7 separate regions of the Homo sapiens genome follow, and all the other regions are reported to be linked to region 1. The links are microRNA targets in miRTarBase. Many come from high-throughput screens and were not tested one by one. Region 1 holds a microRNA gene; each other region holds the end of a gene's coding sequence.
The links. Region 1 holds the annotated microRNA hsa-miR-6884-5p (AGAGGCUGAGAAGGUGAUGUUG, at 2,095-2,116, opposite strand). A microRNA usually pairs through its seed, bases 2 to 8, with sites in the 3' UTR of a target mRNA and lowers its output. Matches are read on the target gene's strand: a 7mer-m8 pairs with bases 2 to 8, a 7mer-A1 pairs with bases 2 to 7 and ends in A, and an 8mer does both.

Region 2: miRTarBase lists ACBD7 as a target of hsa-miR-6884-5p. Seed matches in the 3' UTR shown: 7mer-m8 at 2,652-2,658 and 7mer-m8 at 753-759.
Region 3: miRTarBase lists MRI1 as a target of hsa-miR-6884-5p. Seed matches in the 3' UTR shown: 7mer-m8 at 2,581-2,587, 7mer-m8 at 2,447-2,453 and 7mer-m8 at 1,932-1,938.
Region 4: miRTarBase lists PPM1L as a target of hsa-miR-6884-5p. The part of its 3' UTR that is shown has no 7-base or 8-base seed match.
Region 5: miRTarBase lists PRXL2C as a target of hsa-miR-6884-5p. Seed matches in the 3' UTR shown: 7mer-m8 at 1,386-1,392, 7mer-m8 at 1,698-1,704, 7mer-m8 at 2,125-2,131 and 7mer-m8 at 2,260-2,266.
Region 6: the mRNA of TBCCD1 is a reported target of hsa-miR-6884-5p. The part of its 3' UTR that is shown has no 7-base or 8-base seed match.
Region 7: miRTarBase lists LRFN1 as a target of hsa-miR-6884-5p. Seed matches in the 3' UTR shown: 7mer-m8 at 3,108-3,114.

Annotation. Positions count from the first base shown.
Region 1 is chr17:40,024,289-40,028,365 of GRCh38, forward strand. It overlaps MIR6884 (microRNA 6884), which reads right to left and starts at 2,121; the gene lies at 2,044-2,121. MED24 (mediator complex subunit 24) reads right to left here. Exons shown (of 26, transcript NM_014815.4): 15 at 3,621-3,658; 16 at 3,095-3,177; 17 at 2,568-2,746; 18 at 2,359-2,458; 19 at 1,868-2,043. It overlaps SNORD124 (small nucleolar RNA, C/D box 124), which reads right to left and starts at 3,357; the gene lies at 3,254-3,357. RefSeq lists an enhancer at 2,359-3,269.
Region 2 is chr10:15,075,117-15,079,193 of GRCh38, forward strand. It overlaps ACBD7 (acyl-CoA binding domain containing 7), which reads right to left. Exons shown (of 4, transcript NM_001039844.3): 2 at 3,807-3,924; 3 at 3,575-3,637; 4 at 359-3,487. The coding sequence ends at 3,414. ACBD7-DCLRE1CP1 (ACBD7-DCLRE1CP1 readthrough) reads right to left here. Exons shown (of 8, transcript NR_144471.1): 2 at 3,807-3,924. Among named protein-coding and RNA genes, the nearest start is that of ACBD7, 12 kb to the right of the region's middle.
Region 3 is chr19:13,771,635-13,775,711 of GRCh38, reverse strand. It overlaps MRI1 (methylthioribose-1-phosphate isomerase 1), which reads right to left. Exons shown (of 6, transcript NM_001031727.4): 6 at 1,430-3,591. The coding sequence ends at 3,431. C19orf53 (chromosome 19 open reading frame 53) reads right to left here and starts at 1,256. Exons shown (of 3, transcript NM_014047.3): 1 at 1,138-1,256; 2 at 1,005-1,060. The coding sequence starts at 1,234. RefSeq lists enhancers at 191-719, 720-1,249, 1,226-1,425, 1,496-1,565.
Region 4 is chr3:161,068,552-161,072,551 of GRCh38, forward strand. PPM1L (protein phosphatase, Mg2+/Mn2+ dependent 1L) reads left to right here. Exons shown (of 4, transcript NM_139245.4): 4 at 260-4,000. The coding sequence ends at 606. Among named protein-coding and RNA genes, the nearest start is that of B3GALNT1, 35 kb to the right of the region's middle. RefSeq lists an enhancer at 1,145-1,194.
Region 5 is chr9:96,638,042-96,642,118 of GRCh38, reverse strand. It overlaps PRXL2C (peroxiredoxin like 2C), which reads left to right. Exons shown (of 6, transcript NM_153698.2): 6 at 233-2,542. The coding sequence ends at 360. Among named protein-coding and RNA genes, the nearest start is that of PRXL2C, 15 kb to the left of the region's middle.
Region 6 is chr3:186,547,310-186,551,386 of GRCh38, reverse strand. TBCCD1 (TBCC domain containing 1) reads left to right here. Exons shown (of 8, transcript NM_018138.5): 7 at 108-258. The coding sequence ends at 237. Among named protein-coding and RNA genes, the nearest start is that of CRYGS, 5.0 kb to the right of the region's middle.
Region 7 is chr19:39,304,376-39,308,452 of GRCh38, forward strand. It overlaps LRFN1 (leucine rich repeat and fibronectin type III domain containing 1), which reads right to left. Exons shown (of 5, transcript NM_020862.2): 5 at 2,191-4,077. The coding sequence ends at 3,258. Among named protein-coding and RNA genes, the nearest start is that of IFNL1, 10 kb to the left of the region's middle. RefSeq lists an enhancer at 3,452-3,953.

The sequences.
Region 1 (4,077 bases):
TTCAGGAGGCTGAGGCGGGAAGATCACCTGAAATCAGGAGTTCGAGACCAGCCTGGCCAACATGGTGAAACCCCATCTCTACCAAAAATACAAAAATTAGCCGGGTGTGGTGGCACATGCCTGTAATCCCGGCTACTCGGGAGGCTGAGGCAGGAGAATCTCTTGAACCCAGGAGGCGGAGATTGCAGTGAGCCTAGATAGTGCCACAGCACTCCAGCCTGGGTGACAGAGCGAAACGCCGTCTCAAAAATAAGTACATAAATAAATAAATAAAGACATCCTCAACGTTGCCATAAAGACATGGCAACACCCAAAACGTATTAGCTGGTAAACACCCATGTTCACAGCAGCACTATTCACTATAGCCCAAAGGTGGAAGCAACTGAAGTGTCCACTGACAGAGGAGGGATCAAGATGTGGTATAGCCACACAATAGAGGTTTCTTTTGTTTTTGTTTTGTTTTTTGAGACAGAGTCTCACTCTTTCACCCAGGCTGGAGTGCAGTGGCGTGATCTCGGCTCACTGCAACCTCCGCTTCCTGGGTTCAAGCAATTCTCCTGTCTCAGCCTCCCAAGTAGCTGGGATTGCAGGCGCCTGCCACCACTCCCTGCTCATTTTTATATTTTTAGTAAGGCCAAGGTTTCACCATGTTGGTCAGGCTGGCCTTAAACTCCTGACCTCAAGTGAGCCACTCACCTCAGCCTCCCAAAGTGCTAGGATTGCAGGCGTGAGCCACCACGCCCGGCCCACAACAGAGTATTATTCAGCCTTAAAAAGGAAGGAATTCCTGTCACGTGCTACTACATGGATGAGCTTTGAGGACACCATGCTGAGTGAAGTCAGTGAGTCACGAAAAGGCAAGGACTGTATGATTCCAGTTAAATGAGGCATCTAAAAAGTAGTCAAATTCAGCAGGGCACGGTGGGTCACGCCTGTAATCCCAGCACTTTGGGAGACCACGGTGAGAGGATCACTCAAGGCCAGGAGTTCAAGACCTGGCAATATAGTGAGACCCTGTCTCTACAAAGACTAGAAAAATTAGCCGGCTGTGGGCCTGCAGTCCCAGCTACTCGGGAGGCTGAGGCGAGAGGATCACTTGAGCCCAGGAATTTGAGGTTGCAGTGAGACTCACTCTGATCTGGGCAAGGGTAAGACCTTGTCTCAACAACAACAACAACAAAAAGTATAAAGTAGTCAAATTCCTAGACACACAAAGTAAAATGGTAGTTACCAGGAGCTGGAGGGAGGGGAAAATAGGAAGCTGTTGTTCAGTGGGTATGGAGTTTCAGAGATGCAAGAAAGTTCTGGAGACCTGTTACACAACAGTGTGAATATACTTAACACTACTGAACAGTACACTTAAACATGGCTAAGATGGCAAATCTTATGTGTTTTTTACAATTAAAAAAAGCAAACAACTTATTGGTTGGGTGAATGAACTCAACGTAACTGGTCACCAGGGAAGTCCTCCAAGCCCCTGAAGAGCCAGGGCAGGAAACTGTCCTAAGAGGTAACTGAGGGTGGGGCATGGCCTGTAAAATCTACAGACAGGTTCCTAGCTCCTAGACAGTCACACAGCTTTGTTCTTTTGGGAGCTAGTTGTCTAGAACTTGAGTCTCTGCGGGCAGACCCTGTTTAGGGTCTGCATTTCTGACAACACAGCAGGTGCTGGCATATAAACGCTTCTGCCACAGAGACACAGTACATGTTTGCTGAGTCAGATGAGTGAATGCATGAATAGGAAAGTGAGTGAGTGATCAAGTAGCGTGTTTGCGAAGGTCAGAAAAGAGAGGGGTGCTTGTTATTGGATGTGCTGACTTCTCACAACACACTTGAAGGGTCTGAGAAGGGAAGGCAGGTTACCGACCTCTCATTGTAGAACTGCAGGGTGTTCTCACTAAACAGTGGCCCTGCCAGCTGGCGGATCATCTGCAGCGACTTCTCACGCTCATCCAGCCCCAGCATCCGGACGTGGGCCACAAGCCAAGCCACAGCACACACCGCCAGACTGCATACCTTCCCTTTGATGTTATCAGTGATTTTCTAGGGGAGACGGAAAGGTGATGGGCTACCATCTATCTCCCTTTCTTGAGCCAACATCACCTTCTCAGCCTCTGCGGGCAGCTAAGTGCAGCGGGTGGAGTCCCGGGCCACATTCCACACCTCTCTCCACAAGTTTGATCTTCCCAGAGCTACCTGGGCCAGAGGGAGTAGCTAAGACAACGATTACACAAAATATCAATATCAAAACATGAGCTCCTGGATTAAAGGTCTTCTTGCCCTTACGAAATATAACAAGTCATCACTGGCTGGCTCTGTGTCTCAGGGGAGCAAACGCTGCTGGGAAGGCGGGGCTACCTGGATGGACTCGAAGGCCAGGACCCCATTCTCCCAGGCATTGAGGATTTCCAAGATGGCGGCTGAGATGCTGAGACAGGCCTCATGCCACTTCATCTGCCTGCGGGTGTGCAGAGAAGTCAGCACAGGGGAGCAAGGAACGGGCTCAGGGAGCGGGTCTTGACCCTGCCCCCACCGCCACCCTTGGAGTGGGCGCCCGGGCCACTGACACTAGCTTCATCTCCGAGGAGTTGTTGAGCAGGGCCACCAGGGACTCCACTTTGGTGGAGTCGGGGCGGAAGCAGGGGTGGTCAGGGTTCAGGATCTTGCCCTCCTCAGGCATGCAGGTCTGCATCCAGGTCTCGAAGAAGGGCACCTCAGCTCCTGTGCGCGACTCGGACAGAATCACCTGGGAAAGGGGAAGGGGGGCACCAGCCGAGTGGGGAGGGCGCGGCGCCTGCCAGCGCTGGACCTGGGGCTGCACTGTTTCCCGCCAGGCTGCTGCTCCAGCCCAGCCCAAAGACTGGGGACGAACTGGTCTAAGGGAGCCAGACGGGGGCAATGCTGCCACCTAGTGGTCAATGTGAACATAGGGCTGAAGGTGCCTCTACGGACTCCAGCCCGGGTGGGCACCTGGTTTCTGAGGCCCACAGAACTAACTGGCTGAGAGGCTGCGGGGGCGCAGGCAGTGAGGTGGGGAGAGTTCCGGGTTACCTCCTTCCCTTGAGCCCCCGTCCCGGTCGCTCCCCTCTCTCACCTCTGAACCATAGGTCTGGGCCACATGGCACAGCATGAGGAAGGAGATGTCAAACAGCAGGGCCCGGACGGAGGCCGGTTTGGCTGTGGAAGGACGGGAAGGCTGAGCTCCCAGACGAGGGCAGGGGGGAGCCCGTGTCTGGGTTGACAGGGATCGGGATTTGCCTCTAGGAAGGTCAGGGACCAAGTGGCTCCTTCAAAGCTCTGAGGCTCAGAATCCTTTTCTTGAGTCTCAACTGGAACATCATCCCTTCCTTGAGACCAAAGACCCCCAGCACCCTCTCCTGGCATACCTAACCAAGTCGTAAAGGGATGAGGGGGGGAAGGAGACACAGGGATGGTCTGGGAAGAATCCTTTTCCAGCATTATCCACTTTCAAGCTCTGTGGAAGCTTCCATTGGTCATGGCTCTGAGGAGGGAGCACAGCCTCCCCCTGTTGAGCTGGGGAGCCCTCCTCCCTCCCACACTCTCCCGCCACACCCCTCCTCAGGGCCCACTGGGCCTGCGGATGCACAGGGCTGACTTACTGCTTTCTTCGCTGCCATAGGTTGTGAATTCATTCAAACTGAAAGGAATGGAGACAGGCTGCATTGACCAGGGCATGAGCTGAGCAGTAGCTGGGCGCTGGGGCTACACATGTTCAGAGAGCGATAGCTAGAGTCTGAGTTACTGGTTAAACTTAAAATGAGACACATTGCTATAGAAAAAAGGTTTTTGTGGTTTTTGTTTTTTGTTTTTTTTTTGTTTTTTTTGAGAAAGAGTCTCGCTCTGTCACCCAGGCTGGAGTGCAGTGGCACAATCTCAGCTCACTGCAACCTCCGCCTCTGTTCAAGCAATTCTTCTGCCTCAGTCTCCCAAGTAGCTGGGATTACAGGTGCCCGCCACCACACCCGGCTAATTTTTTGTATTTTTAGTAGAGACAGGGTTTCACCAAGTTGGCCAGGCCGGTCTTGAACTCCTGACCTCAGGTGATCCGCCCACCTT
Region 2 (4,077 bases), not on the chromosome of region 1:
ATAGTCTGCAAACTGAAGTTTCATGATGGAACAAATGCCAGGCTTTGGGGGTAAGCTTTTTCCCCTGCATCTCTACCTGGTGGAGGTAAAGTCCACATGGGAACAACTTTCAGGAGTTTTCAAGCCCTCAACTGTAAGACACCAAGTCTATCATTGATGATGTCTTCTCTTTGAAGGAATTAGGCCTTGGTATCATCGTGGAAGACGTCTATCATTAGGCGAAATTTAGAAAGATGAGAATTATCTTGATTGCCAAAATTTTCCCGATGAGAAATCAACCTCGATTTTTAAAAGTAAACTTTTTGAGGTAACTGCAGATTCCCTTTTATTTGTAAGAAATAATACAGAGAGATTTGTGTAGCCTTTTACCCAATTTCCTTTAATGGTAACTGTTATGCAAAACTATAGTATAATATCACAATCAGCATATTGGTGTTGCTACAATCAAGACAGAACATTCCATCACTGCAGGATCATCCCTCCTGCTGCCCTTTTAAAGCCACACCCACCTCCCTCCTCCCTGGCAACCACTATTCCATCCTTTGCGTCTATAAATGTTCCCTTTCAAGAATCCTGGCTGGACGCGGTGGCTCATGCCTATAGTCTCAGCACTTTGGGGGGCCAAGGTGGGTAGATCACCTCAGATCAGGAGTTCCAGACCAGCCTGGGCAACATGGTGAAACCCTGTCTCTATGAAAAATACAAAAATTAGCTGGGCATGGTTGCACGCACCTGTAGTCCCAGCTACTCTGGAGGCTGAGATGGGAGGATTGCTTGACCCTGGGAGGCAGAGGTTGCAGTGAGCCGAGAGCGTGCCACTGCGCTCCAGCCTGGGTAACAGAGTGACAGCCTGTCTCAACAAAAAAAAAAAAAAAAAAAAAGAAAAGAAAAAGAATGTTATATAAATGGAATTATACATGTCACATTTGGGGACTGGCTTTTTCTGCTCAGCATAATTCCCTGGAAATTCATCTAGCAGACCTAGATAGTTTTGTTGTTGTAGTAACATGAAGTGGATCTATTCCTCTGGTCATACCATTCCAAATCTAAATTTTTATGCAGGGAATAGAGGTACACTGTTTTGGGGGATATTTATCTTAAGGGATCTCAAACAATTTTTTGAATTGTTAACATGAGACTGTCTTCTTTCAAAGAGCCTGTGTACCATCCAGAAAGACTGAGTAGGGGGCCAATATTATATTCCAGACTCTATTTTTACTCAGATAGAACTGAACATATGGGGTACAGTAGTGGTACAGTTTATCACTAGATACATTTTAGTTTGCCTTTTTGTCTTAAATGTCTTAAATGTAAAAATTTAAAGAAAAATAGATATTCCTATGGGGGCTTTTTAAATTTCTTTAAACTGCTATGGACAGACTTGTAATTTTTTTTTTTTTTTTTGAGACGGAGTCTTGTTTTGTCGCCCAGGCTGGAGTGCAGTGGTGTGATCTTGGCTCACTGCAACCTCCATCTCCTGGGTAAAAGCAATTCTCCTGCCTCAGCCTCCCAAGTAGCTGGAATTACAGGTGTGCACCACCAATGGCTGGCTAATTTTTGTATTTTTAGTAGAGATGGGGTTTTGCAATGTTGGTCAGGCTGGTCTCGAACTTCTGACCTCAGTAATCCACCTACCTCGGCCTCCCAAAGTGCTGAGATTAGAGGCGTGAGCCACCACGCTCAGCCTTGCCATTGATTCTTAATAACCTGTTTTTATTTCACCAGTAACATTAACTTATTGTAACAGAACAGATGAGCCAAAAGAACAAACAGCTGTTCAAATCTGTACACATATTACCAGGGCTAGACTTTCTAAAAAGTCAAAAAACAACAGATGTGGAGAAAAGGGAATGCTTATACACTATTGGTGGGAATGTAAATTAGTACAACCTCTATGAAAAACAGCACGGAAATTTCTCATGGAACTAAAAATAGAACTACCATTCTACCCAGCAATCCCACTACTGGGTATCTTCTTAAAGGAAAATAAATCATTCTATCCAAAAGATACCTGCACTTGTATATCTATTGCAGCACAATTCACAAGAGCAAAGATATGGAATCAACCTAAGTATCCATCAGCAGATGATGGGATAAAGAAAACGTTGTATATGTATACCAGGGGATATTACTCAGCCATATAAAGAGAATGAAATTACGGCTTTTGCAGCAACGTGGGTGGAACTGGAGGCTATTATCTTAAGTGAAACAACTCAGAAAAAAATAAGAAAATAAAGATTTTTAAAGAACCCTCAGAAACAAAAAAAAATACCACATGTTTTCACTTATAAGTGGGAGTTAAACAGGGTGTATACAGGGTCATGGAGTGTGGAATAATAGACACTGGAGGCTTGGAAAGGTGGGAGGGGGTGAGGGATGAGCAATTACCTTTTGGGTACAATGTACAGTATTTTGGTGATGGTTACACTAAAAGCCCAGATTTCCCCACTACACAATATATCCATGTAACAAAACTGCACCTGTGACCAGGTGTGGTGGCTCACACCTGCAACCCCAGCGCCAAGGTGGGCAGATCACCTGAGGTCAGGAGTTCGAGACCAGCCTGGCCAACATGGCAAAACCCCGTCTCTACTAAAAATACAAAAATTAGCCAGCCATGGTGGCAAGCACCTGTAATCCCAGCTACTCGGGAGGCTGAGGCAAGAGAATCACTTGAACCCAGGAGGCGGAGGTTGCAGTGAACCGAGATCACACGACTGCACTCCAGCCTGGGTGACAGAGTGAGACTCCTCAAGAAAAAACAAACAAACAAACAAAAACTGCAACTGTACTCCCTAACTCTATAAAAATAAAAAATACTTTTCTAAAAGAATTTTTTTTTTTATACTTTAAGTTCTGGGATACATATGCAGAACGTGCAGTTTTGTTACATAGGTATACATGTGCCATGGTGGTTTGCTGTACCCATCAACCGGTCACCTACATCAGGTATGTCTCCTAATGTTATCCCTCCCCTAACCCCCTAGTCCCCGACAGGCCCCAGTGTGTGATGTTCCCTTCCCTGTGTCCATGTGTTCTCATTGTTCAACTCCCACTTATGAGTGAGAACATGCTTGGTTTTCTGATCTTGTGATAGTTTGCTGAGAATGATGGTTTCCAGCTTCATCCATGTCCCTGCAAAGGACATGAACTCATCCCTTTTTATGGCTCCATAGTATTCCATGGTGTATATGTGCCACATTTTCTTAAAAAGAACTTTTAAAGACACCTGGTTTAAGCAAGTACAATTGAGTTAACTATGTAGTTTCAGTATACTTCTAAGTACTACAGCTCATGCTAATAGCAAAAATATACATGATACATCAAGTTAACAGTATGCCTCTCCCTCTAAATGTTAGGTCATGATAGCATTTGGAAGTCTTCAAAAGGAAAAATTCCTCATATGCTGTATTCTAAATTCCGTATTTTTCTATCAGCTCCTTTGCTTTAGAAATATAGGCACTCGTCGCATCTTCCGTCGACAACCCTAGAAAGATACAAACAGGTTATCTCCCTGATTGGTGCACTGGGAAATTAAGAAAGTTTGCTTTAAACTTGTGAAAGACTAAAAAACCTTTTTTGAGGTTCCATGCTTCCCATTTGGCTTTGCCTTTTAAATCTAGCATTCCTGGACACGCTGGCAAAAGAAGGAGACATGCATTTGCAGGTTAACATTTTACTGTGCACTTCTATAGACATTGTTCAAACGGAGTATATTACTATATTTTAAGTAATTATATATTATAATCGCAATTAATATATTAATTGTAACATATGAATATATTAATATTAATAATATATAATACCAATATTAATGTCTCCAACTATTGCTTGTTTGTAAAGCCCATAGAGTTCTTTCAGTTCTCCATCATCTGGTCTTGCTTTCAGCTTCCTCACATCTTCTGCAGCCCTGTCAAAATCAGCCTAAAGGAAGAACAAACAAACAAACAAAAGGAGCATTTTACCACCAAGGAATAGGAACTCAAAGAGCAGGAAGAGGAAGGTTCCAAGTAGAAATGAACTTCTGCTGCTCTGGTTCTATCAGAATCATCTTAATTTACTTGAATTCCTAGGAGT
Region 3 (4,077 bases), not on the chromosome of region 1:
AGGGCTGTTTACTGTGGAGTACAATTCAAACCCAGGTTTGACTCCCACCAAAACCAGTTTTAAATCTCCTTCCAACTTCTTTACAAGCTCAACCTTACCCATCTACATATAAATGTTGCACTTAAAAACAACCATAGGGTGGCTCACGCCTGTAATCCCAGCATTTTGGGAGGCAGAGGCGGGAGGATGCCTTGAGGCCAGGAGTTCAAGACCAGCCCGAGCAGCATAGTGAAACCTGTCTCTACCAAAAATACAAAAAAAATAAAATTAGCCGCGTATTGGCGAGCACCTGCAATTCTACCTACTCGAGAGGCTGAGACGGAAAGATTGCCTAAGTCCAGGAGGCTGAGGCTGCAGTGAGCTATAATGGGGCCACTGCACTCCAGCCTGGGCAACAGTGAGACCCTGACTCAAAAAAAAATGACGATAACCAACGCACCCTCACACTTCTTTGAGCCCTCTGCTGTTCTAGGTTTACAAAGCTGGGCTTTCAATTCCCTTCCCATGTCACCTCGCTGTCTTCCTGAGTTCAATTAAAGAAAACAGTAACAGCAAGAGGCTGACGTTATTGGAACCCTTTTTGGGCCGCAGGTCTTGCTTCTACGAGGCCCTTTTGAAGTGGTAAGTGGTGTTCCTGCACCCCTTGCACAAGGAAGAAAAGGGAGGCCCACAGAGCTGGGAGTCCTCCAGGCCTCATCCCTTGCCCTTTGCCGATCCCTGTGCTCCTTCCCTCGCCGGCCTCCAGATTTCATCTCTCGTCCCTAGCACGTCCCCCAGCCCCTATCCCTCGCCAGCTTCCACCTCTTACCCCTCTCTGCGCCCCGGGCTCCATCCTTCGCTCCTAACGCGGCCCCTGGCTCTATCCCCTCGCTCCTAGCTCGTCCCCAGGATCCACCCTCTCCCCTCACTGATCCCCGGGCTCCACCCATCCCCCCTCGCCGTCCTCCGGGTTCCACCCCTCGCTACTCGCCGCCCTCCGGGCTCCATCTCTCGCCCCCGCACACCTTCTTGAGCTTTTGCTGCTGCACGACGCGCGCCTTCTTGGGAGCGATAACACGACCTGGGGAAAGATGTGCTCACGTGAGGCCGGGAAGCCGGGGGTCCACCTCGCCCCCAAGTCCCCGGGCCGCTCCTTACCGCCTTTTCTTGGGCCCCGATTCTTTTCAGAGGCTGCCGCTGCCGTCTTACTCTTTGCGGGTTTGTGCGCCTGAAACTTGCGCTGCCCCTGCGCCATGGTCCGGCACGCAGCGGAAGAGGCGGGACTGTGAGCAGTCGTAGCCGGAAGGCACAGGGAACCATGGGATACAGCGGGGCGGAAAAACGCAAGAACTCACGGGATACAACGTGGCACAGAGTTAAAGAGACAGCATCCCACAAGGGTAGTGTAGTGGATCACAGTTGGAGTTTTCAAACATTACGAACAAAACGGTGACAATGATAAGCTAACGTTTATTGAGAGCTTATGTGTTTTAGAAAACTTACAACGTTTTATGATCTTTACACATAAAAACTCAGACTAGGTTAGGGTGTGGCACTCACCTCTGGTACAGAATTTAAGAAGGTTCAAAAACTTTGGTAATAGTAAACAATATTTTCAAGACTTAAAAAATATTTTAATATCCAAAATAATCAAATTGTTAAACTACATCCTGCAGACCGGCAGCATAATTTTGTAAATAAAGTTTTAGTGGAACCAGGGTGTTGAGGTCAGTAAGCTCAAGGCACAAGTGCGGGGTTCTAGCCTCTTCAAAATTTTATTTAGGCCGGGCACGGTGGCTCACGCTTGTAATCCCAGCACTTTCGGAGGCCGCGGGGCGCGGATCACCCGAGGTCAGGAGTTGGAGACCAGCCACGACTAACATGGTGTCTCCAATAAAAATACAAAAATTAGCCAGGCATAGTGCCAGGCTCCTGTAATCCCAGCTACTCGGGAGGCTGAGGCAGGAGAGTCGCTTGAACCCAGAAGGCGGAGGTTGCAGTGAGCTGAGATGGCACCACTGTACTCCAGCCTGGGCGACAGAGCGAGACCCCGTCTCAAACAAATACTTGTTTTGTTCATCATGGATTTTTTTTTTTTTTTAAAGAGATGGGGTCTCACTCTGTTGCTTAGGGTGAAGTGCAGTAGTGCAATCAAAGCACACTGCATCCTTGAACTCCTGGGCTCAAGCCATCCTCCCACTTCAGCCTGAGTAGCTGGGGCTAGAGGTGTGAGTTCCATGCCCAGCTCATTGTTTTTAAATTTTTGTTTGTAGAGACAAGCTCTTCCTATGTTACCCAAACTGGTCTCAAACACCTGGGCTCAAGGGATCCTCCCAAAGTGCTGGAATTACAGGCATGAGCCACCAAGCCTGGCCTCATCATGGATTTTTGCATTAATTTTGATTTTTAAAAAATACTGCTGTAAGGTCAGGCACAGTGGCTCATGCCTGTAGTCCCAGCACTTTGGGAGGCTGAGGCAGGGGGATCATTTGAGTCAGGAGTTCGAGACCAGCCTGGCCAACATGGTGAAATCATGTCTCTACTAAAAATAGAAAAATTAGCTGGGCATGGTGGCGCATGCCTGTAATCCCAGCTACTCAGGAGGCTGTGGCAGGAGAATCGCTTGAACCGGGGAGGCACAGGTTTCAGTGAGCTGAGATCTCGCCTCTACATTCCAGCCTGGGTAACGAGTGATACTTGATCTCAAAAAAAAAAAACCCAAAACAAAATATTGCTTTAAAATATTTTTTATCTTGGTTGCTGAGCTTTTTTGGTGTCCTCTTAAAATTCTGCCCTGGAGATGTCACCCTAGCTCCAGCCCTGACCTTAAGAGGGAGGTACTAGTATTATCCACATTTATTTTTTATTTTTTTAATTAAATAATTAATTAATTATATTTATTTTTGAGACGGAGTCTCGCTCTGTTGCCCAGGCTGGAGTGCAGTGGCGCTATCTCGGCTCACTGCAAGCTCTGCCTCCCAGTTTCACGCCATTCTCCTGCCTCAGCCTCCCAAGTAGCTGGGACTGCAGGTGCCCACCACCACACCCGGCTAATTTTTTGTATTTTTAGTAGAGATGGGGTTTCACCATGTTAGCCAGGATGGTCTCAATCTCCTGATCTTGTGATCCACCTGCCTCGGCCTCCCAAAGTGCTGGGATTACAGGTGTGAGCCACTGCGCCCGGCCTGTTATCCACATTTTATAAATGAGGAAACCAAGGCACAGAGAGGTGAAGTGACTTGCCCAAGATCATACAGTGGGAAAAGTGGCGGAGTCAGGATTTGAATCTGGGCAGCCTGGCTCTAGGTGCTGGGCTCTAGATGGAAGGCCCTGTCTGAGCTCCCTGCACTAGGAACAAGTGTGGTCAGGGGCTGGACGGTCAGCTTTTGGGTAGCCATTCAAGAAATGTATTGAAAAACCTAGAGAGGCAGGCTAGGGAGAGCTGAGTTGGTTACATCTGGGGTCCATCTAGGGTTCCATCCCTGGAAGAGATGGTGGTGGTTAGGGCTGTCCGGAGCTCCTCAGGGGCAAAGACCCCCAGTTCTGTGATGATGCCACCAGTGATGAGGTCGTGGGGGGTGACATCGAAGGCAGGATTCCAAACTCCAATCCCTGCAGGGGAGAGAGGGGAGGCAAGGAGGCAAGAATTTGCTTCTGTGAAAGTTCTCAGGTTGTAGTCATCTGTTTCTACCACAGTGGTTCTTGGAGTTGGGGAGTCCTTGAGAACCTGAGGATTCTCACCCCAAAAGTACATGCAGGCATGGACATTGTACTCAATAGTAAGTTTAGACTCGCCACTGCCCCTAGAATGTCAGTCCCCAAGAAAAATTCAAAGTCCTATACACATCTATGCCACTTATTTTTTTATTTTTTGTGAGATGTAGTTTTGCTCTTGTTGCCCAGGCTGGAGTGCAATGGCACGATCTTGGTTCACTGCAACCTCCACCTCCCAGGTTTCAAGCAATTCTCCTGCCTCAGCCTCCCGAGTAGCTGGGATTACAGGCATGCACCACCATGCCCAGCCAGTATTTTTAGTAGAGACGAGGTTTTTCCATGTTGGTCAGGCTGGTCTCAAACTCCCGACCTCAGGTGATCTGC
Region 4 (4,000 bases), not on the chromosome of region 1:
CATATGTATCCGCCACCTTCAGTACTCTTATTGATATATTATTGAAATCCTTCAAGATGCCAGGATGAGGGTATGAGGATCAACTGGTAGAGTATAAAACCCCAGGCCATGCAGTGGGTCCCAGGAGTGATGGGGTTAAGGGGAGTGCCCACAGCCCAGTTCACATGAAGTAGGTCACCCTGTTGCGCACGTACCTAGACTATCCCAGGTAAGTGAGATATCAGCTGGTCAAACTAATGGGCTCATCCTGTCTTTCTAGGTGGTTTCATCAGTTTCAATGGCTCCTGGAGGGTCCAGGGAATCCTGGCCATGTCTCGGTCCCTGGGGGATTATCCGCTGAAAAATCTCAACGTGGTCATCCCAGACCCAGACATCCTGACCTTTGACCTGGACAAGCTTCAGCCTGAGTTCATGATCTTGGCATCAGATGGTCTCTGGGATGCTTTCAGCAATGAAGAAGCAGTTCGATTCATCAAGGAGCGCTTGGATGAACCTCACTTTGGGGCCAAGAGCATAGTTTTACAGTCATTTTACAGAGGCTGCCCTGACAATATAACAGTCATGGTGGTGAAGTTCAGAAATAGCAGCAAAACAGAAGAGCAGTGAACCCTTCAGGGGTCTCAGCTGCCTTAGACTAAAGGACTTTCAACACACTGGTCTCTTTTAATTTAGTGAAAAGTGTGGGAGTTGTAATTAGGATCATCCACCCCAGACATGGAATCCCCCCTCCCTGGTGGTCTTAGGTCTATAATCAGTGACGAACAGAGGGTGCCCTTGGCCAATGTAGTTAAGAAACTGGAAAATGGTTTCTTCATGTTTTCCCAACTCTTTCATCCAGTGTCCAAAATATATAAGTAAATAGCTGTAGAGTCACATATATGAAGTGAATAGCATATGTGTCATTTAGTCTCCCTGAAGATTCTTTTCAAGATCCTGTTCAGGGTCCTCCAGGCATCAGCTGTTGTGTCCTCTCTTTGTAACAGTGGACAGGACAGACCACCCAGTGCTGCAGGAGACAGGCCACTGCGTCACCTGTGAGTGGTCAGGGGCTGATGTGGCAACACCCTCTGCCAAGAGACAGAGCTGTCCTGAGAATGCTTTGTCCTTCTGAGCCCATGTTTTCTGCTCAGTAGCAGCTTGGAAGCAGATTTGGAATGGTTTACTATTTTGGCTGCTCTTGGGGACTGCGAGAAGCAGAGAGAATGAGAGACCAGTGGCAACTGCCTGCACAGCAGAGATAACCCTCTTCCCTTGCTTCCTTTAATAGTTAAATAGACTTTGTATACCACCTGACCAGCCTTTGTGCATTTATCCTAATCATGCATGACCGTTAACCTTTTGCTTAGTCCTTACCATATGTAATAGGCAGCTGTTAAATTCACCAACAGATACCCTGATTTTTCATCTTACGTGACCAAGAAACCACGTTAGGGGAAATGAAAAAAGCAAGCCACAATACCATGATTCCTTCCATTTTCAACAGTAGATGAAGGAAATGATACTGAATGAGTCACAGTGTTCCCTGGCAAGTAAGCTGTTTGCATTGAGAAAGGAGTGAGCTGGTGAGGTTACCACCCTGAATTGAGCTCCAGCTGCCAGTTTTTGTGTTTTTCCTTGCCCCTTTCCAAGTGGTTTTCAAGTGTCAGGCAGTGTTCTGAGAAGCAGCAGCCTATAACTGTATGTGTGTTCCTTGAAGCCAGGTGCAGAGTTCCCAGCTACTGCAGCTTGGGATTTGGTGGGAAACTACTGGGATAAGCTTCTCCTTGACAATGGAAAGGCAGCAGTCTTCAACATTTGGTTGCAAATCTCCATCCACATCAGGGAGCTTTCCCCAGGCAAATACAAACCGCCCCGTGGCCTGCAGGCCTGCAGGGGAGGCAGCAAAGGGACCTGGCAGTTGCAACACAGTAAGTCAGGAATTCAAGCGTGAACCCATATTGATAAGTGGGCCAGAATTATTTAGGGGCCTGGCTTGCTGCTCTCCATTTCCTGTATCGCTAATTTATCATTTTTCCAACCTTGGTATTTTATATTATTTAGAGAAAATGCTGGGTCACTCTCTTTGCCTAAGGTGACTCAAACAGCCAAACGAAACTTCCGTTGCCTCCCAGCCCTCTGTATCCACCTGGTTTTGTTCTTTCCCTGTGAGCATTTGTGGTTATAGCTTCCCATATGCCACATTCACCGGCCACCTCCTCGCCGTGGAACCCTGCCCTCTCCCCTCCTGCTGCTGTAGAGTTTTCCCAAAGCAGTGTCCAGGAGAGAATTTGAGAGAGTGAAGAAATTGCCTTGTAGATGTGGAGGGCTGCAATCTGTCTTGATTTCTCCAAGCACTTAACTTTCTTTGACTGCACTGAGAATTGCTAATGATTTCCCATGAGATTTGCTTACTTTTGTATACTGTATTTTCCAGCATTACAGAACCTTGGTTATTGTTTTTTAGCCATAGAATCTTCTAGTAAAAAATATCTGCCACCATTTTAGATTTAAGCATTTGCCTATGGGGAGACACTGAATATGTGGATGTGTGTATTAATATTTGGGGTGGGGACAGGGAAGGGAATGTGGAAAACAAATGCTGGCTGTGAGCAGTGCTGAGATGGCCAGGCCAGGCGGCTGAGTTTGCTTGGAAATTCAGGACATTCTGACTCCTAAGAGTTGCCCCCACCCACCATCAAACTGAAATCAGCACCAATGGTGTCAGCACTTTACAGCCCATAGCCAACTTTCTTTATTTTTAACGTAGCACAAAAATGTATAATAGCAAGGAAAAGACATTTTTAAATTCCGGTTATTTTTATTGTCTAAAATGAAAGCAACAGTGTTTTGATAAAGATGAAAAAGAAAAGCTACTAAATTAGTAAATCAGTGGTTACGTGCCCTGCAGAATTTCTTAACAGATGGTGCTGAGTGCACGAGTTACATAACTTTCTCTCTAATTGAGGTTCACAAGGCGTCTTCTAAATTTTGCTTTGTACAATTAATTCATTTCTGATGTTAACCAAATAGAGTGTATATATCCTACTCCCATTACTGCCTCTTTCCCCCCTACTATGGCTTGTAGATTTTCAAAAGATAGAAGTTCTAGGCAAAACTGTAGCAGTTTCATTAATAGTTGTTAGGATAGTTATATCTAAAATCAGAGTATTTTGTTCCCTTCCTTCTGGAGCTCTCTCTCCCTAGCCCTTTTCCAGCTGTTGGGGATGTGCAGACATCACTCCTGGGGGTGCCCTATGGTACACTGGCTGCTCCCCAGGGACCTGGGAATGCTGAATCTAGCCATTAGGGAAATTGATTTGAGATGTTTGCATGTGAAGCTTCCCTAAGCAGCACTGCCAAAGCTTTGGAATTGTCACCCAAGGCTTCCTAGACTCCCTAGCTAGCTCGAGTTCGAATTGCCAATAGTCCCCATGGTGCCAAATTTTGGGATGGTTTTACAGTCTTTTAGAAATGAAGACAGGAATGGCCATGTGCTTCTGAGACCCCAGCACGATGCCAGGCCCAGGTCTCCATTAATGCAGTGCTCTGCTGCTGCTCCACTGGCAATTTGTACTCTTAACATAGGTTGGGGGAGGGACAGCTAGGGAAATTTTTTTTAATTAATTGTATCTAAAATTCTTTCATCATAGGAATAAACAACACATATAGAAAGCTCCAAAGCTGTTCCCAAGACCTGTATTATTTATTTTATATGACCAACTTGCCCCAAGGCAATTAACTCTGAATTGCTGTTCTAATGTGACATATCTGTGTACATATGTACATAGTACTGGTAACCAGTGGCTGCATTTTATTCCTTGCTGTGGACTGAGGTATTGGCTTCTTGAATCTTGTATATGTCATAAGAATATTATACAGAGAGTGTTATAGTGAAGGATGTAAGCTGGATAATTTAAAACAGACCTTATTTCATACAAGTGTAATTATTACATCATTTTGGGTAAATGGCAAACAGGATTGCATGAGAGTGATGGCATCATCATTTCAATTGAATCTGAAG
Region 5 (4,077 bases), not on the chromosome of region 1:
CCTTGGATCTCATAAAACATCAAGTATGGCTCTTATTTAACCATAATCCTTGTCATACTTTATTACCATGATTTAAAATTATTATGGCATTATATAGAGAATATAATGCACTCCAGGTAATTAATTTTTCCCTTTGGACTAATTAAAGGTTGAAAAGCTTCCTTGATTTTAGTAAGCAGTAAATCTGATGAATAATACTATGCCTCAGCCTTTTATTCTTATTCTCTTCTAGGTAACAACATCCATTTTATACACCGCGATAGGAATAGGTTGGATCACAAACCTATCAACTCTGTTTTACAGCTTGTAGGAGTTCAGCATGTGAACTTTACAAACAGACCTTCAGTTATCCATGTGTGACTTAAAATGCACTCAGTCACTTTCAACTGGACCTTCTGGAATGTGACCTTCAATGCCTGGGTGTAATATCCTCGTGCAGTGTCTAACCTGCTGTCCCTTCCCAGCCTTTGAGGAGTTAGGGAAGCATAAAGGGGGCTTGAACCTGTTGAATTGCATGCTGGGAAGCATCAGTTGTCAAAATATGTTATATACTTCCATTTTATAACTTTTAACATTTTATACAAAAAAAATGAATATACAAAATATAACTTTAAAAGCTATAAAATCATAAATACTCTAAATTATTTTACATTATGGTATATTCAGTCAATGAAAGAGTTTTTTGGCAATATAAATTCTGACAGTATATAAGGGGACAGGAGAACAACACAAGACCATTATATTCAGTGAAGAAGGCAAAATATCAAATCTGTCAACAATGTAACTGCATTTTTATATGTATATATTTGTATTTTTGTATGCTTTGGAAAAAGACAGGAAATAAACACCAAAATGTTGCCAGTAGGTATCTCTGTGTTAAGATTAGTGTTATTATTTTCTTTTCTGTACTTTTCTGTATTTCCCAACTGTTATATAATGAGCATGATTAATATTGTAGGGCCAGGAAAAGGTCTTTAAACATTATAGGACAATTTTATGCCACATAACAACCTTCACAAAAGAGCAAAATTATATAAGCTGTAGTCCACTTTTCCATCGTAATTGCTTTACTCAGAGGAAGTGTGGCAATCCGAACATTTCACATATAGCCAGTGTCCACAGCACCTTCTCAAACTACATACTTGCTATCCGTTTCACTAGGATTTTGGGGGGTTGGGGGAGCTATGGAGAAAAAAATTGTTTTAGATATTTAAGATATGTATTTAAAAATATGGTCAGTGTGCTTTTTGAAAGGGAACTATAAGAATTTTTTTTTTTTTTTTTTTTGAGATGGAGTCTCACTCTGTTGCCCAGGCTGGAGTGCAGTGGCATGATCTCGGCTCACTGCAAGTTCCGCCTCCCGGGTTCACGCCATTCTCCTGCCTCAGCCTCCCGAGTAGCTGGGACTACAGGCACCCACCACCACGCCCGGCTAATTTTTTGTATTTTTATTAGAGACGGGGTTTCACTGTGTTATAACAGCCAGGATGGTCTTGACCTCCTGACCTCATGATCCGCCCACCTCGGCCTCCCAATGTGTTGGGATTACAGGTATGAGCCACCTTGCCTGGCTTTTTTTTTTTTTTTTTTTTTTTTTTTTTTGAGATGGAGTCTTGCTCTGTCGCCCAGGCTGGAGTGCAATGGCTCAATCTCAGCTCACTGCAACTTCCGCCTCCTTGGTTCAAGCAATTCTGCCTCAGCCTCCCAAGTAGCTGGGATTACAGGCACCCGCCACCATACCTGGCTACTTTTAGTAGAGACGGGGTTCCACCATGTTGGCCAGGCTGGTCTCGAACTCCATACCTCAGGTGATCCGTCTGCCTCGGCCTCCCAAAGTGCTAGAATTGCAGGCGTTAGCCACCATTCCCGGCCAAGAATTGTTAAAATTTTTTAAAACTTGGTAACTTAAATGTACACTATGGTTTAGTTATGCATTCCTAGAGAACTGCTATTTCTCACCCTCAAACTGCTCTTATTTGGGAGACTTGTTATCTTTCATTTTTCTAGAATTTTTTTTTTTTTTTTGAGACGGAGTTTCACTCTTGTTGCACAGGATGGAGTGCAATGGCACGATCTCGGCTCACTGCAACCTCCACCTCCCGGGTTCAAGTGATTCTCCTGCCTCAGCCTCCTGAGTAGCTGAGATTACAGGCATGCGCCACCATGCCTGGCTAAGTTTCTATTTTTTAGTAAAGATGGAGTTTCTCCATGTCGGTCAGGCTGGTCTCGAACTCCCGACCTCAGGTGATCTGCCTGCCTCAGCCTCCCAAAGTGCTAGGATTATAGGCATGAGCCACCGCGCCCGGCCTATTTTTCTAGAATCTTAATATGTTTAGTTGGGAGGTGTCCCAGAAATCCTGATGAAAAGTATAGCAAAATCAGAATTTTGGTAATGATTAGCAAGTATAATACTGCTTTGAACTCAGTACTTTTATATGAAGCATATAAAGTTACAAAAAAAACTAATGTATTCAAATATTTGAATATATCTTCATGTTTGTATAATGTTTTTATTCAATAAAAATGAAATTTCTCATTTAAACTATTTTGTGCTTTTTTTATATACTAAAGGTGACCTTTGCTGATTTTAGACTTCATACTGCTGAATCACATGCTTACACAAAAATTATATACAGTTGACCCTTGAACAACATAGGTTCTACACGGGTCCAGTTATATGTAGATTTTTTTTTCAATTGAAGTTATACCAAGTGTGGGCCGGGTACGGTGGCTCACGCCTGTAATCCCAGCACTTTGGGAGGCCGAGGCTGGCGGATCACGAGGTCAGGAGACGGAGACCATCCTGGCTAACGCGGTGAAACCCCCGTCTCTACTGAAAATACAAAAAATTAGCGGGACGTGGTGGAGGGCGCCTGTAATCCCAGCTGCTCCGGAGGCTGAGGCAGGAGAATGGCGTGAACCCGTGAACCCGGGAGGCGGAGCTTGCAGGGAGCCGAGATGGTGCCACTGCACTCCAGCCTGGGAGACAGTTATACCAAGTGTGCCTGGCTCCCCTGTCACCTCTTCCGCCTCTGCCTCACTTGAGACAGCAAAACCAACCCCTCCTCCTCCTCCTCCTGCTCCTTAGCCTACTCCAGGTGAAGATGAGAATGAAGACCTTTTTTTTTTTCCTTTCTCAGCACATCGTGTCCACTACCAAGAAGGAATTATAAGGCATATGAAAAGACAAAAAACAATTTGAAAAGACAGAACGAGCACTAGAACCAGATTCAGATATTGCAAGAATGTTGGAATTAATCAGACCAATTTTTTTTTAAACTATGATTAATGTGCTCAAGACTTTAAAGGAGAAACACAACATCCAAGAACAAATGAGTAATGTAAGCAGAGAGATGGAAAGTCTAAGAATCAAAAGAAATGCTAGAAGTTAACAACATTGGAATAGAAATGAAGAATGCCTTTGATGGGATTATTAGTAGACTGGATGTGGCTGAGGAAATAATCTCTGAGCTTGAGGATATGACACTAGAAACTGAAAAGCAAAGGCAAAAAATACAAAACAAAATCCAAGAACTGAGAGACAACTACAAAAGACATAACATGAATCATGGGAAATCATAAGAAAGAAACTAACAGAAGAAATATTAGAAGCAATAAAGACTGAAAATTTCCCCAAGTTAATGTCAAACATCAGACTGTAGATTCAAGAAATTCAGAAAACAGCAAGCATAGTAAATGCCAAAAAAAAAGACACCTAGGCATATCGTAGTCAAACTTCAGAAAATCAAAGATAAAAAATCTTGGCTGGGCGCAGTGGCTCACACCTGTAATCCCAGCACTTTGGGAGGCCAAGGCAGGCAGATCACTTGAGGTCAGGAGTTCGAGCCCAGCCTGGCCAACATGGTAAAACCACATTTCTACTAAAAATACAAAAATTAGCTGGGTGTGGTGGCACATGCCTGTAATTCCAGCACTTTGGGAGGCTGAGGCGAACAGATCACCTGAGGTCAGGGGTGATCAGCTTGGCCAGCTTGGCCAACATGGTGAAACCCCATCTCTATCAAAAATACAAAACTTAGTTGGGCACGGTGGTGTGTTCCTGTAATCCCCACTACT
Region 6 (4,077 bases), not on the chromosome of region 1:
AATTAATCATTTAACATTATCCTATTAAAATATTGTATAATTGCTTAGAGTACAATTTATATGAATTCATGTTCTTATATTCTTTTTACTCATAATCGCAATTTTAGGGATCAAAGGAAGCAGTTCCAGGTACTGGTAGAGAACAAGTTTTATGAATGGTTGATTAATACAGGACATCGCCAACAGCTGGACAGCCTTGTACCCCCTGCAGCAGGCTCCAAACAAGCAGCTGGATAAGGATCTTACATGCAGACACTGGTAGGCATTTATACCACTTAAAACAGATTCTTTTGGGGAAATCTTTCAAGCATAAAAAAAAGGCACAGAATATTATATACTAAACATGCCCAAATTTTTTCTACCGCTCCTACCAGCATACACGGACCTTTATGTACCCATATTTACCATATTTTATAGTGAGAAAACCAACCAAAATATTCAGATGGAGCCTATAGAATTTGGGGCCAATATAATGGCCAAATTTTGTCTTATTTTGCTTTTTGCCTGGGACAAGTTGTACTGTCCAAAGATACCACATTCCCCCATACATAGTTCTAAGTTTTATTCTCCTTTTCTAAACCTTTCCTCTTATCCATTCCCCTCACAAAAACCAATTTACAAATTAGCTGATCTTTGCTAATTACACATATTAGCAGTAATAAATTACCAGAATTAATCCAAATGAAGATTTGATTACTGAACACTAGAAGATCATGGATTAAATAGAAGAGAATATGCATACAAACAAATTTACTGGAAGTAAATTTAATCCAGACATATGGTATTCTTTTTTTTTTTTTTGAGACTGAGTCTCTGTCTCTCGCCCAGGCTGGAGTGCAGTGGCGCCATCTCAGCTCACTGCAGCTTCCGCCTCCTGGGTTCAAGTGATTCTCGCACCTCAGTCTCCGGAGTAGCTGGGAAAACAGGCATGCACCACCACAGCTGGCTAATTTTTGTATTTGTAGTAGAGGCTGGGTTTCACCATGTTGGCCAGGCTGGTCTCAAAACTCCTGACCTCAGGTGATCCACTTGCCTTGGCTTCCCAAAGTGATGGGAGTACAGGCATAAACCACTGCGCCCAGCCCCAAACGTATGGTATTCTTTTTTAATAGAGATTAGTATACTGTGTTAGTTTAAAGTTTTTTTTTTTTTTTTTTTTGAGGCAGAGTCTCCCTCTGTCACCTAGGCTGGAGTTGCAGTGGCACAATCTCAGTTCACTGCAAGCTCCGCTCCCCCGGTTCAAGCAATTCTCCTGCCTCAGCCTACCAAGTAGCTGAGATTACAGGCACGCACCACCGTGCCCAGCTAATTTTTGTATGTTTAGTAGAGACTTAGTTTCACCATGTTGGCTGGGCTGATCTTGAACTCCTAAACTCCTGAACATCGCCCACCTCGGCTTCCCAAAGTGTTGGGATTACAGACGTGAGCCACCGGAACTGGCCTAAAGTATTTTTAAATGCTAGCAATAGAAAACAGACAAAGGACAATAATAGATAGTTCACAGAAAAATACTTAGAGACACAAAAATGCTTACTTAAAATTAAAGAAATGTAAAATACTATTTTTTATTAGACTGGCAAAGAGCAAAAGCTGGTAGTACACAATACTGGCAAAACATTTCGTTTACCACTAGGAAAGTGTATATGTAACCTCTGTGGGGGGCAGTTTGACAAAATCAAAATTAAAAATACAAATTTTCTCTGACTCAGCGATTTCTTTTTTCTTTTTCTAGAGATGAGGTCTAATTCTCTTACAGGCTAAAGTGCAGTGGCACAATCATAGCTCACTGCAGCCTCCAACTCCTGCGCTCAAGCAATCCTGTCTCAGCTGGGACTGCAGGTGCATGCTATCACACCCAATTGATCTTTTTATTTTTCTTTAGAGACAGGGTCTCACTTTGTTGTCCAGGCTGGTCTTAAACTCCTGGCTTAAAGCGTTCCTCCTGCCTCGGCCTCCCAAAGTGCTGGGATTACAGGCATGAGCTACTGCACCTGCCCTGATTTAGCAGTTTCACTTATTATTAATAGAATTTATCTTACAGATAAACTCATGTATGTAGGGATCAATTAATTAATTAATTAATTTATTTATTTATTTTTGAGATGGAGTCTCACTCTGTCCCCCAAACTGGAGTGCAGTGGTGCGGTCTCGGCTCACTGCAACCGTCACTTCCCAGGTTCAAGTGATTCTCCTGTCTCAGCCTCCTGAGTAGCTGAGATTACAGGAACCGGCCACCGCACCCGGCTAATTTTTGTATTTTTAGTAGAGACGAGGTTTCACCATGATGGCCCAGGCTGGTCTTGAACTCCTGACCTCAGGTGATCTGCCCACCTTGGCCTCCCAAAGTGCTGGGATTACAGGCATGAGCGACTGCTTCTGGCCTATTTATTTAATTTTTAAATTGACAGATGAATTGTATATATTTATCATTTCCAGCATGATGTTTTGAAATATATATGCATGTGGAATGGCCAAATCAAGCTAGTTAACATTAGAACCTCACATAGTTGTCATTTTTGCAGTGAGAACACTTAAAATCTACTCTCTTTGTTTTTTTCAAGATCACACAGTATTGTTATTAACAACAGTCACCATGTTGTACATTAGATCTCTTCAATGTATTCCTCTTAGCTAACCGAAATTTTGTAACTGAAGATGTTTGATGTGGCATTGTTTAAAAAAACTGTGGACTAGAAACACCCCAAATGCAGTGTATTTATATGCTAATTATATGCCTAACAATCTTTGAAAGAATATAAAGAAATTATAAACAGTGTTTGTCTTTGAGGAATGAGATTGGGTGTCTAGGGTGGGAGAAAACTTCTTAAAAATTTTATTGAGATAAAATATTACCACATAACATTATGGGAAGTAAATTCACCTTTTTAAAGTAAAGAATTCAGTAGCTTTTAAGTATATTCAGAAGTTTGTGCAACTATCACCACTAAAAAATCTAGAACATTTTCATCACCTTCAAAATAAAGCTCGTACACATTGTAGGCCACTCCTTATTCCTCCAACCCCTACATTTCCTCTTCCCCTTAGTCCTTGGCACCACTAATCTACTTTGTCCATTTTGGACATTTTATGTAAATGGAATCATATAACATGTGGCTTCTTGTGTCTGGGTTCTTTCAGTTAGTGTAGTGTTTTCAAGATTCATCCATGTAGCCATGTATCAGTACTGCATTCTTTTTCATGGCCAGATAATATTCCATCGTGTGGATCTACCATTTTGTTTATCTGTTGATCAGTTGATGGACATTTGGCTTGTGTCTACTTTTCAGCTGTTGTGAGTAATGCTGCTGTGTACATTTGTGTACAAGTTTTTGTGTAGACATTTGTTTTTATTTCTCATGGATATATACCTAGAAGCGGAATTGTGAGGAATATATTTAACTTTTAAAGGAATTGCAGTTTTCCAAAGCTGTAAAAGTGTATTTTTTGCTTTAAATATTTACATTTCTTAAGGGTGTATTTTTTTTTAAAGAATTTAGCATGCCTGTAATCCCAGCACTTCGGGAGGCCGAGACGGGTGGATCACGAGGTCAGGAGATCAAGACCATCCTGGCTAATACAGTGAAACCCTGTCTCTACTAAAAAATACAAAAAATTAGCCGGGCGTGGTGGCAGGTGCCTGTAGTCCCAGCTACTCAGGAGGCTGAGGCAGGAGAATGGCGTGAACCTTGGAGGCGAAGCTTGCAGTGAGCCGAGAGCACCCCACTGCACTCCAGCCTGGGCGACAGAGCGAGACTCCGTCTTAAAAAAAAAAAAAAAAAAGAATTTAGCAATATTTATTAATAAATGCTGAGAATTAAGAATTAGCAATTTGGCTGAGCGCAGTGGCCTATGTCTCTAATCCCAGCACTTTGGGAGGCTGAGGTGAGAGGATCACTTGAGGCCAGGAGTTTGAGACCAGCCTGGGCAATATAATGAGACCCTGTCTCTACAAAAAAATTAAAAATTAGCTGAGCATGGTGGCACATGCCTGTAATCCCAGCTACTCTGGACACAGACTGGAGGATCTCTTGAGCCCAGAAGTTCAAGGCTGCAGTGAGCTATGATTGCACTGCTGTA
Region 7 (4,077 bases), not on the chromosome of region 1:
GCCAGGAATGCTTTTCCCTGCTTTTCTCACAATGCATTTATTTAGCTCTGTCATCACCATCCTTCACCCTCCCACCTAAAGTAGGCCTCAAAGTCATTCTCTATGCCATCATCCTGTTTTCATTCTTGGCACAACATTTATTTGCCACTGGACATGCATTATTTACTCGTTTTTGTTTGCTTGTTTTTTGGGTCTCACTCTGCCACACAGGCTGGAGTGCAGTGGTGCAATCAGGGCTCATTGCAGCCTCAACCTCCTGGACTCATTTAATTGCTTATTTGTTTATTTCTCCTCCCTCTAGAATATAGGCACCACGGAGCAGGGCTTTCTTGTTTTGTTTCATCTATTTTGTTCACTGCGATAGCCCCTACATAGGACCAGTTACATAATACATGCTCAATAATGCTTTATCAAGTGAATTAGAGACAAGATTCCTGATGGTTCTGTGTGCAGGTTGGAGGCAGTCAGCTTTCCAATCATGGCTCTGCTGTTAACTGGCTGTGTGATCTTGGAGATGCTCCTTAACCTCTCTGAGCTTCAGTTTCCTCATCTTGAAAATTGTGTGCACACACTGCATATACCTGTGCAGGCTTTAAATGCAGTCATACTTATTATTGGAGTAACTCCATTTCCTAAGCATTATGTGCCATGCACTGGGTTGCATGCTCTTTATCCGTGCATCAGGGAGGGTTTGGGAGCACTGTGCCTGGCTTGTGAAAAGCCCTCAGTACCTAGGAGTCGTCATGACTGACACAAATGAGGGTGGTTGGGCTCCTGGGTGAGGAAGCCTCCTGGCCTGTGATTCTCTGGTGCCTCTGTCCTAGCAGCCTCCCACCCTGTCTGCCTAGATCCATCCCCCTCCCTCCTGCTCCGTTTCTATTTCTGTCTTTCTCTCCTCCTCCCCTGGCCTCAGGGGGCCCCTGGCTGGCAAGAAGCCTTCCTCCTTCTTCCCCAAGATCAGGAAGGTGTTATCACTGCAGGGCCCCTGCAAGGACTGGGATGTCTGTCCCTCTCCTCTCCCCAACCAGCTTTCCTTCCCCAGCCACAGCCCTCAGCCTCACCTGAGAAACTCCTCTCCCCACACCATCCTCCATGCCCTCCGCCAGGGTCCCTCAGATTCCAGGCAGAGCGACACAAGAGGTCTTGTCCCTGAGCTCACCAGGCTAGCTGTGGATATCCAAGCTCAGCTAAGCTCATGGGGGCCATACCCCAGCTTCCGGACACAGACCCCAGAGGCAGCATAGTGTAGGGGTACAATCAAACTTCCAGCTCCGCTATTTATTCATTGGGGGGATGGAGGGACTACGGCAAGTGACTTCATCTCTCTGTGGTTCAGGTTCTTGTCTGTAAAATGGGACCAAGGATAGATCTACCCTACCCCACTGAGTTGTGAGGTCTCAGAGGGTGGAATGAATATTCAATAACTGCTCAGCAGTACAGTGCTCTAGTTGAGTATTAAAGGAGTTCAGGGAATGTCACCCCAAAATATGGCACCCTGGTATGCTGATTATTTTAAATTAAAGGCACTTAGAGATCCATAGATGCTGGAAGAGGCTTTCCTCCTATGTCTTCTTATCTGCCTAAAGATCAAAAAGAACACAAGTGCCTTCTGTCCTCTCCCTGACATTTCATTATCTTTAACAGGAAAAAAAGACAGAGAAATGTCTACACCTGGACGGACTTTGTCACAAGAAATTATCTGTCTGTCAGTCTCAAATTCCAGAGACATTTACAAGCTAAATTCTATCTCCTGGACCCATTTATTTTCCCCAAAATCATTTATTACCCCTCAAAATTGCCTTCCTTTCCCCATCTCCCCTCCTGTGAAGAAAGGTATATAAGTATATAAACCTCACTGGGTTATTGGGTAATCACTTTCCTGTGATTTTCCTAGTGCATGTTAAATACCCTCCATATTCCTTTTCTCTTGTTAATCTATTGTCAGCCCATTCCAGTGAAATTTCAGAGAGTGAAGGGGAAGCTGTCTTTTCACCCCTATAGTAGAGACTCAGAAGTTGGCCTGCCTGCCTTTTTAAATCCCAGTTTTACCACCTTGGGCCAGTTATTTAACTTTTCTGGGCCAAAATTCCCTCATCTGGAAAACAGGATAATAATACCGATATGTCCTGGTGTTGTGAGAATTAAATGACTTAAGTGCTTGGCACATAGTAAGTAAGTATTCACTAAGCGTTAGCTATTATGATCATTTTATTTTTGTGATTATTCCCCACCTCTAAGTCTCTCAGAGGATAAAAGCCTGTCTGCCAGTCTCCTCCGGCCCCAGTTAGTCATCTTCCCATCTTCCTTCAGTCTCACTTAGAGTCCTTATGCTGCAATCTAGGTCACCCTCCCCCAACACACACACACACACACACACACACACACACACACACACACTACACGCGGACACACATACAGACACACACACAGGTCAGCAGGGCCTCAGACACAGAAAAAAGTTTAATTCTGCTGCGGCGGAGGGTCCCGGCTCCGGTAGGGAGGGGGATTTGGTTTTGGATTTTGTTCGTGTGGGGATTTATTTGGGAGAGTCTGGTCCTTCCAGTGGGACCTGCCCGGGAGAATGAGTAAAGAGAAGAAATCAGGAGAGACAGGGAGACTAGACAAAACCAGGGAGGGCCGAGGGACAAGAGACGACAGGACAGAGAGAAAGGAGAGGCAAATAGGGAAAGACAGGCACTACAGAGAGACGACAAGAGGGCGGGATAGAGACAAACGAGGGAAACAGAGAAAGGGGGACCCCAAGCCAGACCCGACCGGACCAGGAATGTGCGTGGGGTGGGGTGGGAGGCTTTGGAGGCCGCCGCGGGACAGAATAGGATCTAGTCCAGCCAGATACAAGAAATGGGCCCCTCGCCCCGGCCCCGGGTGACGGGCTGGGGGAGGGGGCTCGTGTCTCAGTGCTGCAGTGTCAGGGGGCCCTGCCCCTCCCCGCGCTTCGCTGTGTAAGGCACCGGCTCCAGCGAGGTCCGCGAGCGCGCGAGGGGAGGGGTAGGAGGGGGGTCGAGGAGTCCATAGGGGAAGGGAGGCCGGCAGCCGGTCCCCGAACCCCGCCCTGGGCACGGGGGCGTGGCCTCGAGCCGCAGCCCGAGGCTGCCCCGCCCCCTCCCGGGGACAAGGGCGCGTCTCCACTCTGGTCCAATGTCTTGGCGCTGCGCTTTCTCCCAGTCCCGCCCCAGCGTCCGTGCGGCTGGGCGTTTGGTCTGCGGCACCCAGGCGTCCCGGCGCCCGCCCGCCGCTCACACGGTACTCTCCAGCATCCACTCGGTGCTGGTGAAAGCCAGGCACGCCCTGGCGGAGCCCAGCCCCAGGTCTCCATCCTCCCCGGCCGCGCCCCCTCCAGCCCCGTCCAGGTGCGGCGTGGACCGGTGGCGCTTTGTCCGCCGGGCGCGGCGCGGGTAACTGTGGCTCTGGAATAGTGCCCCGTAGTCCCCGTCGAACGAATAGCGCTGCTGCGGCCTCGGCCGGGCCGCGGCTCCCCCAGGAACTAGAGCTAGAGTAGGGGGCGCCGAGGTTGGTGGCTCCAGGGCGCCGGATCGGCTCCTTCGAGGGCCCACCGCGGCCCGAGACTCCTCCCCGGAAGTTTCCTCGGATGGCAGCAGGCACAGCGAGGTGGCCGAGCCGCCCAGAGAACGTCCAAGGACCACCTCCGGCTCCGCGGATGCCGTCTCGGCCTCCATGGCCTTGGCCTCGACGGCGACGGCGGGGGCAGCCTGGGACTCCACCTCGCGCAGCGCCTCGTAGTGGTCCTGGGCCGGCAGGGCCGGGGCCTGTGCCGCGCCTGTGCCTGCGCCGTTGGTCTGCGAGCACACGTGGCTGACCCGCGGGAGCGACCTGGAGCCCTTGACGCGGCGGCTGTCCCCGTCGCCATACACCTTATAGCGGATCATGAGCAGAACGATGAAGACGAGGACCGAGGCGACGATGACGCCCCCGATGGCGATGATCATGGTGCCGCCCAAGAAATGGGCCCTCAGCGGGCGGCAGGGCGCCGGATCCCCAGCGGTGGTGAACTGTACACAGCCCACCACTCGCGTTGCCGGCAGCGCTGTGGCCCCG